Homo sapiens: one gene and its partners. The protein of the gene in region 2 interacts with the protein of the main gene of each other region in a pairwise test. Each region holds a gene or a part of one and is shown on either strand. Other genes may lie near its edges.

Region 1 (3,652 bases), on a different chromosome or scaffold from region 2:
CCAACATGGTGAAACCCCGCCTCTACCAAAACCTCGAAATAAATAAATTAATTAATTTAAAAAATTAGCCTGGTGTGGTTGTGCATGCCTGTACTCCCAGCTACTTGGGTGGCTGAAAAAGGAGAATTGCTTGAACCTAGGAGGCGGAGGTTGCAGTGAGCCAATGTCGCACCATCGCATTCCAGCCTGGGCAACAGAGCAAGACTCCGTCTCAAAAAAATAAGAAGAAAAAAAAAAGAACAGTTTAAAAAAGGCTGAAAAGTTAACAGTCTTAGGGACCCTATAGGACAATATCAAGTGATATGACGAACATGTCTCAAATCAGAGAAGGAAAAAGGAATGAAGTGGGAAGAGAAAGAAATCATGACTAAAATAAGAAGTCTCCAAATTTAATCGAAAAAAAATTCAATCTACAGATTCAAGAAGCTTGGTAAATCCCAAAAGCAGCCAAACGTAACACACACTGTGTGATTCCTTTCATATAAAGAATAGGCAAAATAAACCTATGGTGTAGAAACGAGAGAAGAGGTCATCTATTTGACTAGGAAGGTTTATTTAAGTGTATACATTTGTTAAAACTCACTGAATTGTACACTTCTGGTCCATGCATTTCACTGTATGTAGATTTTACATCAAGTTAAAAAACTACCTTTAGCAGAATGTCTTAAAAGGGTATTCATTAGTTTAAGGATATTATCTAACATATCGATATTAATAGACTTTTTTTCTCTCTTTTTTTTAAAACGGAGTCTTGCTCTGTTGCCCAGGCTGGAGTACAGTGATGGGATCTCGGCTCACTGCAACCTCCGCCTCCCAAGTTCCAGCAATTCTCCTGTCTCAGCCTCTGAGTAGCAATTACTTTTACACCAACCTAATACTTGGGTCAAAAGCACTCTAATTGGCTGGGCACGGTGGCTCACACTTGTAATCTCAGCATTTTGGGAGGCCAAGGCGGGCGGATCACTCGAGGTCAGGAGTTCGAGACCAGCCTTGCCAACATGGGGAAACTCTGTCTCTACAATACAAAAATTAGCTGGGCGTGGTGGCACGTGCCTGAGACACAAGAATCGCTTTAACCCAGGAGGCAGAGGTTACAGTGGGCCGAGATGGTGCCACTGCACTCCAGCCTGGGTGACAAAGCAAGACTGTCTCCAAAAAAAAAAAAGCACTCTAATTAATCCAGGGTACAAACAAATTACTATTCAATGTAAACAAAATTCATGGCATGGATCATTCTAAGATCCTAAGAACACTCACCTTGTTTGTTCAATTTTGTCCCAACTTCAGGGAGACTACAATAAACAACATCTCCCAACGCTTCCTAAATAAAACAAGACAAAACCAAAAATCTCTAAGAAGTTATAACTAAACCCTCCAGTAAACAGAATAAGCCAAACACTGAATCCCCTATAATGAAGATTTAGTATATATTTTATACTGGAGGGGCTACATTCTTGAGTTTTCCTTAAAATCCTTTAAACATGTAAAAACTACTCTCAGTCAGGTGTGGTAGTTCACGCCTGTAATCCCAGCACTTTGAAAGGCCCAAAGTGGGTGTTATCACATGAGGTCAGAAGTTCGAGACCAGCCTGGTTGACATGGTGAAACCCAGTCTCTAATAAAAATACAAAAATTAGCTGGGTGTGGTGGCAGGCACTTGCAATCCCAGCTACTCAGGAGGCTGAGGCAGGAGAATCACTTAAATCTGGGAGGCAGAGGTTGCAGTGAGTTGAGATTGCACCTGTATACTCCAGCCTTGGCGACAGAGCAAGACTCCATGTCAAGAATAAAAATAAATGGCTGGGTGCGGTGGCTCATGCCTGTAATCCCAGCTCTTAGGGAGGCAGAGGTGGGAGGATAGCTTGAGCCCAGGAGTTTGAGACCTGCCTTGGCAATATAGCAAGACCCTGTTCTCCAAAACTAAGTAAAATAAAATGATTTTAAAAAACTATTCTCAACTCAGGAGCTGCAAGAGACCAGCCGCCAGCCAGATCTGGCTCACAGGCTTTAGCAACCTAACACAAGCCTCCTGCCCCACACAAGACTGCTAGCTCTTTGTTTTATTTGGTTTTGAGACAGAGTTTCTCTCTTGTTGCCCAGGCTGGAGTGCAGTGGCCTGATCTCAGCTCACTGCAACCTCTGCCTCCCAGGTTCAAGCGATTCTCCTGCCTCAGCCTCCCAAGTAGCTGGGATTACAGGTGCCCACCACCATGCCTGGTTAATTTTTTAAAATTTTTTGCTAGAGATGCAGTTTCACCATGTTGGCCAGCTGGTCTTGAACTTTTGACCTCAGATAATCAACTTGCCTCGGCCTTCCAAAGTGCTAGGATTACAGGTGTGAGCCACTGCGCCCGGCAAACACTGCTAGCTCTTCTGGGCATGAACATATTTGGTGTTCTTCCACCTCTGTAGTTTTATGTACACCATTGCCCCCAAAGCATTTGCTGAAATCCTGCTCACTGATTCTACAAATCATAGTCCTCACACCTTGTACTCCCTGAAGTCCCTGACTCCAGAAAGAAGTGGTCTCTCCATCAGGTAAGTGAATTACAACCCCACCGTTCCGATGCCATCATGTAATGTTTGCAAGTCATTCTCATGTAGGTAATTCCCCTCACAAATAAACTCTAGGAGGTAAGGACGACATCTTACACAACATCTCAAAAACTATCCAACACTGGGCCTCATAGTAGGTATACAGAGATGCCAAGGAAGATATAATTGTGATTATCAACACACAAGCATCTTACATGTCTGAGGAATTTTGTACAGTCACGTGCCGCCTAATGGCATTTTGGTCAACAACAGACCACATATATGACAGTGGTCCCATGAAATTATAATATAGTTAGTATCACTTGTCCAAAATGCTTGGGAGCAGAAGTGTTTTGGATTTCAGATTTTGGAATACTCGCATTATACTTAATACATGAGCACTCCTCATCCAAGATTCTGGAATCCAAAACGCTCCAATGAGCATTTTCTTTAAGAGTCACGTTGGTGCTCAAAAAGTTTCAGATTTTTGGAGTATTTCAGGGATTAGAGATGCTCAACCTATGCCATATTTTTACTGTACCTTTTCTGTGTTTTGATAGGCCAAGTGTGTTACGATTGCCTACAGTATTCAGTACAGTAACATGCTGTACAGGTTTGTAGCCCAGGAGCAAAGGCTGTACCATACAGCCAAGGTGTGTAATAGGCTGTACCATCTAGGTGTGTGTAAGGGCACCCTAGGAGGCTCACAGAAGGACGCAATCCCCGAGGAGGCAGTTATCAGAACATAGCTCCATCATTAAGTGACACGAGTGCATTCCCATCAGTTAACATCCCCCCTTCCCCGCCTCACCCAATACATACATCCAGTTGAAAATCACTGAACACGCTAGGATTTGGCTTCTCATTTTCTCTTAAACAGTATCGCCATATGGAATTGAGGGGAATTTACAGAGAAAAGATGGGCTGAATAAAAGCCTTCCCTTTGTGTCATCTGTGCCTATTGAGGTTTTCTTTCTTCCCGTCCTCCTGGTCACGTGTGTATCACTGGACCCACAAAATGGTGGCAACACCCTGCTCTTCTTTTTCCTCTTTCCTTAATTGCCCAGTACAAAACACACACATTTCCTTCTTGAATAGGACATGTTTCCTACTTTCA
Region 2 (3,652 bases):
TGCACTTCACTCGGGTCAGCTTCCATCAGTGTTCCTACATCCGGGATACAGGCTATGGGTATTCGTTCTTTTGGGAAAAAGAGGGGAAAGCCTCTTACCCTCCTTTGTGCTTCTTTTTCTTTGGTGTGTCTTCCTCTGATGTCCTCCTGCCTCGGCCCCGGGACCCTCTTTTTTCTTTCTGACCCCGGCCTTCTGAAAAATAATCAAGATGCAAATTATTTTTATAGAATTCTCTAAAGCAAGGCAAGTTTTGTGTTTTGTTTTTAAAAAGGGGTCTCGCTCTGTCTCCCAGGCTGGCTGGAGTGCAGCGGAGCAATCATAGCTCACCGCAGCCTTGACCTCCCGGGCTCAAGCAATCCACCCACCTCAGCCTCCCGAGTAGCTGGGACCACAGGTGTGCACCACCACACCTGGCTAATTTTTAAATTTTTTGTTGAGATGAGGTCTCGCTATGTTGCCCAGGTTGGTCTCAAACTCCTAGCCTCAAGTGATCCTCCTGCCTCAGCCTCCCAAAGTGCTGGGGTTACAGGCGTAAGCCACCACACCCAGCCTGCAAGACAAGGTTTACCCAAATATGATACTTACCCTAGTGATCATACTTTAATGATTTACCGTGACAAAACTCTTCAAAACTCCATAGTTAACAGTAATAAAATAAAGAAAAAAAATTAACAGACTTGCTTTTTAACCCTCGCCCTCCGGAGCTTTCAAAATCACTGCCCTCCATCTTGTCCTTCAGATCTGCTTCAAAGCGCGCCAGGTCTGCATCAAGCCTTCGAATGTGTTTATCCACCTACAAAAGGATACCCAAAGTCTTATTTTAAAGTAAAACCAAAACACCTCAGAATCACGAATGTACAAAAGTATCCACCAGGAAACACCTTCTTGCCCTTTAATTGAGTCTCCAATGAACAAACCTCTGCTAAAACAAGGCCCACTATTTCAAAGTCCATGCAAGGGTCTTGTGCTTTTTCTGCATATTTTGACATTGCAATGGAATAAATCCCATTTAGGGAAAAGACATGAGTGTGGGCAATAATGAGAAGCAGAGTTGTGAAATGCAGTGAACAAGGCCTGGGATATCTGACGCTGAACCCTACTTTAAAATATGGCTACCTGGAGGCCAGGTGCAGCGGCTCACACCTGTAATCCCAGCACTTTGGGAGGTCGAGGCAGTCTGATCACCTGAGGTCAGGAGTTCAAAACCAGCCTGACCAACATGGTAAAATCCCATCTCTAAAATAAATACAAAAATTAGGGCAGGCGCGGTGGCTCACGCCTGTAGTCCCAGCACTCTGGGAGACCGAGGCAGGTGGATCATTTGAGGTCAGGAATTCAAGACCAGCCTGGCCAACATGGCAAAACCCCATCTCTATTAAAAATACAGGCCAGGCACGGTGGCTCATACCTGTAATCCCAGCACTTTGGGAGGCTGAGGCAGGTCAATCACCTGAGGTCGGGAGTTCAGGACCAGCCTGACCAACATGGAGCAACCCCATCTCTACCAAAAATACAAAATTAGCCGGGCTTGGTGGCGCATGCCTGTAATCCCAGCTACTCAGGAGGCTGAAGCCGGAGAATCGCTTGAACCCAGGAGGCAGAGGTTGCAGTGAGCCAAGATCGTGGCATTGCACTCCAGCCTGAGCAACAAGAGCGAAGCTCTGTCTCAAAAAAAAAAACCAAAAACCAAAAACAAAAATTAGCCTGTTGGTAGTGGTGCACACCTGTAATCCCAGCTACTTAGGAGGCTGAGGCAGGAGAATCGCTTGAGCCTGGGAAGTGGAGGTTGCACTGAACTGCAGCCATGCCACTGCACCCTAGTCTGGGCGACACAGTGAGGCCCTGTCTCAAAAACTAAATAAATAATACAAAAATAAAAAAATAAAACTACAAAAATTAGCCAGGCTTCGTGGTGGGTGACTGTAATCCTAGCTACTCAGGAGGCTGAGGCAGGAGAATTGCTTGAACCTGCGAGGCACAGGTTGCAGTGAGCCGAGATAGCACCATTGCACTCCAGCCTGGGCAACAAGAGCAAAAGTCCATCTCAAAAATAATAATAATAATAAAGTATGGCTACTGCATGCCTGTAATCTCAGCTACTCGGGAGACTGAGGCAGGAGAATCGCTTAAACCCAGGAGGTGGAGGTTGCAGTGAGCCGTGATCACACCACTGCACTCCAGCCTGGGCGACAGAGCAAGACTCTGTCTCAAAAATAAATAAATAAATAAAATAAATAAATAAAATAAAATATGGCCACCTGGAGGTCGGGCACGGTGGCTCATGCCTGTAATCTCAGTATTTTGGGAGGCTGAGGCGAGTGGATCACTTGAAGTCAGGAGTTCGAGACCAGCATGGCCAACAGGGTGAAACCCCGTCTCTTCTAAAAATATAAAAATTAGCTGGGTGTGGTGCTGCATGCCTGTAATCACAGCTACTAGGGAGGCTAAGGCACAAGAATCACTTGAGCCTAGGAGGCGGAGGTTGCACTGAGCTGAAATCACACCACTGTACTCCACCGTGGACGACAAAGTGAGACTGTCTCAAAAAAAACCCAAATGGTTCCTCCGAGCAGATACACAAACAAAAAGGGCCCAGAAAAAAAAAAAAAAAAAACAGGGATGGTCCTACATGAAGTGTATTCCGTCTGCACTTCCTCCAGCAGCGTCAGCTACCAAAGCCAGCCTTCCACTTGGCTATGCCCATTTCCGGGCAGTTTTTACATTTTGTTGCATGAGAGGCAGGAGTAGAGGTCAGAGGAAGAGCCATGGCCCCCGCCCCGCCCTCACCATCTCGTAGGTCTGCATGGCCAGCTGCACTTTGTCGTCACTGTATTCCTTGCACTTGCTGTAGGCGTTCTGGATCTTCTGCAGGCGCTCCACGCGCTGGTCTGGAGACAGCGTCTTCACCGTGGAGATGTACTCTGCAGCCAGGATGTCAATCTCTGCTTTCTTATCTGATGGAGAAATGGGGGAAAAGCTAGCCCTGCACAAGACACCATGATGTGCTCACCAGACTGGCAACAACTAAAGTCAGCCAACGCCAAGTTGTGGCAAAGATGTAGGCTGACATGAACTCACGCTGTGCTGGTGGGAGCGCAAGTGGGCAGAACCGTTCTGCACAAACAGTCTGGGATCGTGTGAATGTGCAGACTTTACGGCAACGTGCCCAGGACAGTCCCAGCTCTGAATGTTACACAGCAAGTGGTCACAGTGCCTTCTTCGACTCTCAAACATCCTGTATGAATAACTTGTAGCCACCTTTCCTATGACCTGGCATACTACTCTTTTTTCCCTTTTCTTTTTTTCCGGTAGAGCAGTCAAGAAAGAACACACTACTCTTAAATACCCTAAACAAACCTTATGTCACCTAAAGAAATCCACACGGGAAACATTCATAAGAGCAGAAAACAGAAAACAACCCCAATGTCCAATCCTCAGTAAAATGGAGAAATAAGCTGTGGTCCCTTCAGACAACAGAGTGCTACTCAGCAACAAAAAGAGCAAACTACAGCCACACACAGCAACACGGATGATTCCCAGAGAAGGTGACACGGAGCAAAAAGAGCAAGAAACAAAAGAAAACATACTGGATGATTCCATTAATATGAAGAGCAGAAACAGACACAACTCTTAACCCTTCAGTTTAGAGGGG
Region 3 (3,652 bases), on a different chromosome or scaffold from region 2:
CACTGCACTCCAGCCTGGGTGACAGAATGAGACTCCGTCTCAAAAAAAAAAAAAAAAAAAAAAAGAAAAAGAAAAGGAGATGCCAAACCACAATTAGGGCTGTGTCTCAGTGGCGTTTCCCTACATAAGGCAAGATGAACGGAAAGTGTTGCCTTCTTACCTGGCACCTCATGAGAGGGTAGTTGTCGCTCTGCTTTGTACCCCAGCTTCCCTTTAATACCGACAGTAAATTCATATCCCTTGGCCAGGTTTATTTTCTTCATTCTATAAAAATGCCTATTTTAGGAAGCTTACGTATAGTAGCACTTGCTATCTGCTAAGCATTGTGCTAAGCACTTGGCATGTATCATCTCATCTTCCTTATTACGTTCGTATGAGATAGATAATATTTTATCCCCGGGATTTTTTTTTTTTTTTTTGAGATGGAGTCTCGCTCCGTCGCCCAGGCTGGAGTGCAGTGACGCGATCTCGGCTCACTGCAAGCTCCGCCTCCTGGGTTCACACCATTCTCCTGCCTCAGCCTCCCAAGTAGCTGGGACTACAGGCGCCTGTCACCACGCCCTGCTAATTTTTTTTATTTTTAGTAGAGACGGGGTTTCACCGTGTTAGCCAGGATGGTCTCGATCTCCTGACCTCGTGATCCGCCCGCCTCGGTCTCCCAAAGTGCTGGGATTACAGGCGTGAGCCACTGCGCCTGGCCTTTATCTCTGTTTTGAATTCAAAATATTCTTCCAAAATTTGTTACTGCTGTAACTAAAACAACTGACCTACCAAAGCACTTTGGACTAATTTTCTTTTTTCAAATCCCTCCTCAGCGTACCAGTAATGTTCGATCCACATTTTTCAAGGACTGTTTATATGAAGTATTTGATGACTTGGAGTCAAAGATGGAAGATTCTGGAAAACAGCTACTTCAGTCAGTTCTCCACCTGATGGAAAATGGAGCCCTCGTATTAACTACAAATTTTGATAATCTCTTGGAACTGTATGCAGCAGATCAGGGGAAACAGCTTGAATCCCTTGACCTTACTGATGAGAAAAAGGTAAAAAGTAAAGCATTGGTCCCTTCTTCAGGCTAGTGGATTTTATCTTCCTCAGAAAAGCTCTTTTCTAGTTGGTATATTGGTATTTATGTAGAGCTAGAAAGGAAAAATTTTTTCCCTGGTTGGAGTTTTTGTTTTTCTTTTTTCTTTCTTTTTAAAGATCAAATCAATATACAGTAAAATGCATAGAACTTAAAAGTGTTCAGTTCTATGACTCTTGACAATTTCATCCAGTTTTAAAGCAAGATTAGAGGAAGTCACTTGAACTGTAAGATCTCTTTAGCACTTGACAGTATTCAGTGGTGTAATATTGATAATGCTGGTTCTATTTTAGGATACCTTTTTTTATGGCATCTATTGGAAATGTATGAAAACTACTTTATACTGATTGGAAGAACAACTTCCAGGCCAAGCGATGGCTGAATTGAGGTTAATGTTTAGTGGAAACCTCAGCAGACTTTGTTTTAGCATAGTCTATACTGTACCTACCATAATTATTGAATTATAGATGTTGATCTGTGTCAGCTAATGAGATGAGTTCTTAAAGTCTCATTGGTCCTACTCTGTGATTTTTGTAATGTTTTTTCCTACACTTTGTTTTCCTCAGGAATCTGCCTTTATGTCCAATTTAGAGCCCAACTAAGTAGAGTTGAATAGACAAGTGATTTGCCTGCTGGCATTCAGTACTACAGTATTGCCCCTGCCAGAGTGGTAGCTGAAATACCACTCTTGTGGTTTTGCTGACCTTGATGGCAGGATTTAAAGGGAATTGAATTTAGAGAAAAGCTGCCCCATGAAGACTAGTTTTCTCTGGTCCAAGTGTCTTCCGCCTACGCCCTCATATTCTGTATGGTCAGCTCCTTCTTCATTTATAACTCTCAACCTAGGGATCCCCTCCTGAGAGACCTTCTCTGACCATCCTATTTAAATTGGATACTTATTTTTTTTATCCAGTCTCTTGTCCGTTTCCTTTGTAGCACTTAGTATTAACTTGCAGCTTTTTTTTTTTTTTTTTGAGAGACAGTTTCGCTCTTGTTGCCCTGGGTTCAAGTGATTCTCCTGCCTCACCCTCCTGAGTAGCTGGGATTACAGGCATGTGCCACAACGCCCGGCTAATTTTGTATTTTTGGTAGAGACGGGGTTTCTCCATGTTGGTCAGGCTAGTCTCAAACTCCTGACCTCAGGTGATCTGCTAACCTCAGCCTCCCAAAGTACTGGGATTACAGGCATGTGCCTGGCCGTTTTGTTTTGTTTTGTTTTGTTTTGTTTTGAGATGGAGTTTTGCTCTTGTCGCCCAGGCTGAAGTGCAATGGCATGATCTCAGCTCACTGCAACCTCCTCCTCCTGGGTTCAAGCGATTCTCCTGCCTCAGCGTCCCGAATAGCTGGGATTACAGGCACCCGCCATCACGTCTGGCTAATTTTTGTATTTTCAGTAGAGACAGGGTTTCACCATGTTGGCCAGGCTGGTCTCGAACTCCTGACCTCAGGTGATCTGCCCACCTTAGCCTCCCAAAGTGCTGGGATTACAGGCATGAGCCACCACACCCAGCACAGTTTTTATCTTGGCTGTTTATCTGTTTTCTGACTGTTTACCCCATAGGAATAGTAACTTCACTTGGATAGGTATCATGTTAGTCTTTCTTACCCTCATAACTCAAATACAACCCTCATGTCTCAAATATGACAGTTAGGTGCTTGGTAAATATTTTTTTGATTAATAAATGATTGGGCTGGGCACAGCAGCTCAGGCCTGTAACCCCAGCACTTTGGGAAGCTGAGGCGGGAGGATCACTTGAGCCTAGTTCAAGACCAACCTGGGCATCATAGCAAGACCCCATCTCTACAAAAAGTTTAAAAATTAGCCGGGCATGGTGGTGTTTGCCTGTGGTCCCAGCTACTTGGGAGGCTGAAGCAGGACGATCGATTGAGCTGAGGCAGTCGAGGCTACAGTGAGTTGTGATCACACTGTTGCACTCCAGCCTGGGTGACAGCATAAGATCATGTCTCTAAATAAATAGGCTGGGCACAGTGGTTCACGTCTGTAATCCCAGCATTTTGGGTGGCCGAGGTGGGTGGATCACTTGAGGTCAGGATTTTGAGACCAGCCTGTCCAACATGGTGAAACCCCGTCTTTACTAAGAATACAAAAACTAGCTGGGAGTGGTGGTGCACGCCTGTAATCCCAGTTACTTGGGAGGCTGAGGCAGGAGAATCATTTGAACCCAGGAGGCAGAGGTTTCAGTGAGCCAAGATTGCGCCACTGTGCTCCAATCTGGGCAACAGACCAAGACTCTGTCTAAAAACAAACAAACAAATGATTGAAATTTTAAAACTAGCAGCTTCTATGCTATTTGTGATAAAATTTCCAAAGATTATGACCAAGTGTGTTCATGGATATCAGAAGCATAAGGACCTTTTAAAAGCTGAGGATATCTATCACATTTGATGTTTTCCTTCTCATTTCATCCTTGGGCCTCAAGATTTGCATTGTATTTTCAGCCCACATTAGGGGCAGTGTTGCAGTCTAATGGTTAAAGACATTGACTGGTAGTCAGAATGGGGCCTAGTAACATTCAAATTCTAAATCTCGGTGCCTCTTGACTACTT

Evidence for each region.
Region 1: the proteins of ING5 (region 2) and GCSH interact in a two-hybrid assay, tested with the Homo sapiens proteins (one large-scale study listed by BioGRID and IntAct).
Region 3: the proteins of ING5 (region 2) and FAM118B interact in a two-hybrid assay, tested with the Homo sapiens proteins (one large-scale study listed by BioGRID and IntAct).

What each region holds. Positions count from the first base shown.
Region 1 is NC_000016.10:81,086,344-81,089,995, forward strand, and holds part of GCSH (glycine cleavage system H protein, mitochondrial precursor), read right to left. Parts: intron 1,322-3,652; coding exon 1,258-1,321; intron 1-1,257. UniProt on the Homo sapiens protein: The glycine cleavage system catalyzes the degradation of glycine. The H protein (GCSH) shuttles the methylamine group of glycine from the P protein (GLDC) to the T protein (GCST).
Region 2 is NC_000002.12:241,708,518-241,712,169, reverse strand, and holds part of ING5 (inhibitor of growth protein 5), read right to left. Parts: intron 2,955-3,652; coding exon 2,788-2,954; intron 794-2,787; coding exon 682-793; intron 193-681; coding exon 99-192; intron 1-98. UniProt on the Homo sapiens protein: Component of the HBO1 complex, which specifically mediates acetylation of histone H3 at 'Lys-14' (H3K14ac) and, to a lower extent, acetylation of histone H4. Component of the MOZ/MORF complex which has a histone H3 acetyltransferase activity.
Region 3 is NC_000011.10:126,249,691-126,253,342, forward strand, and holds part of FAM118B (protein FAM118B), read left to right. Parts: intron 1-815; coding exon 816-1,043; intron 1,044-3,652. UniProt on the Homo sapiens protein: May play a role in Cajal bodies formation.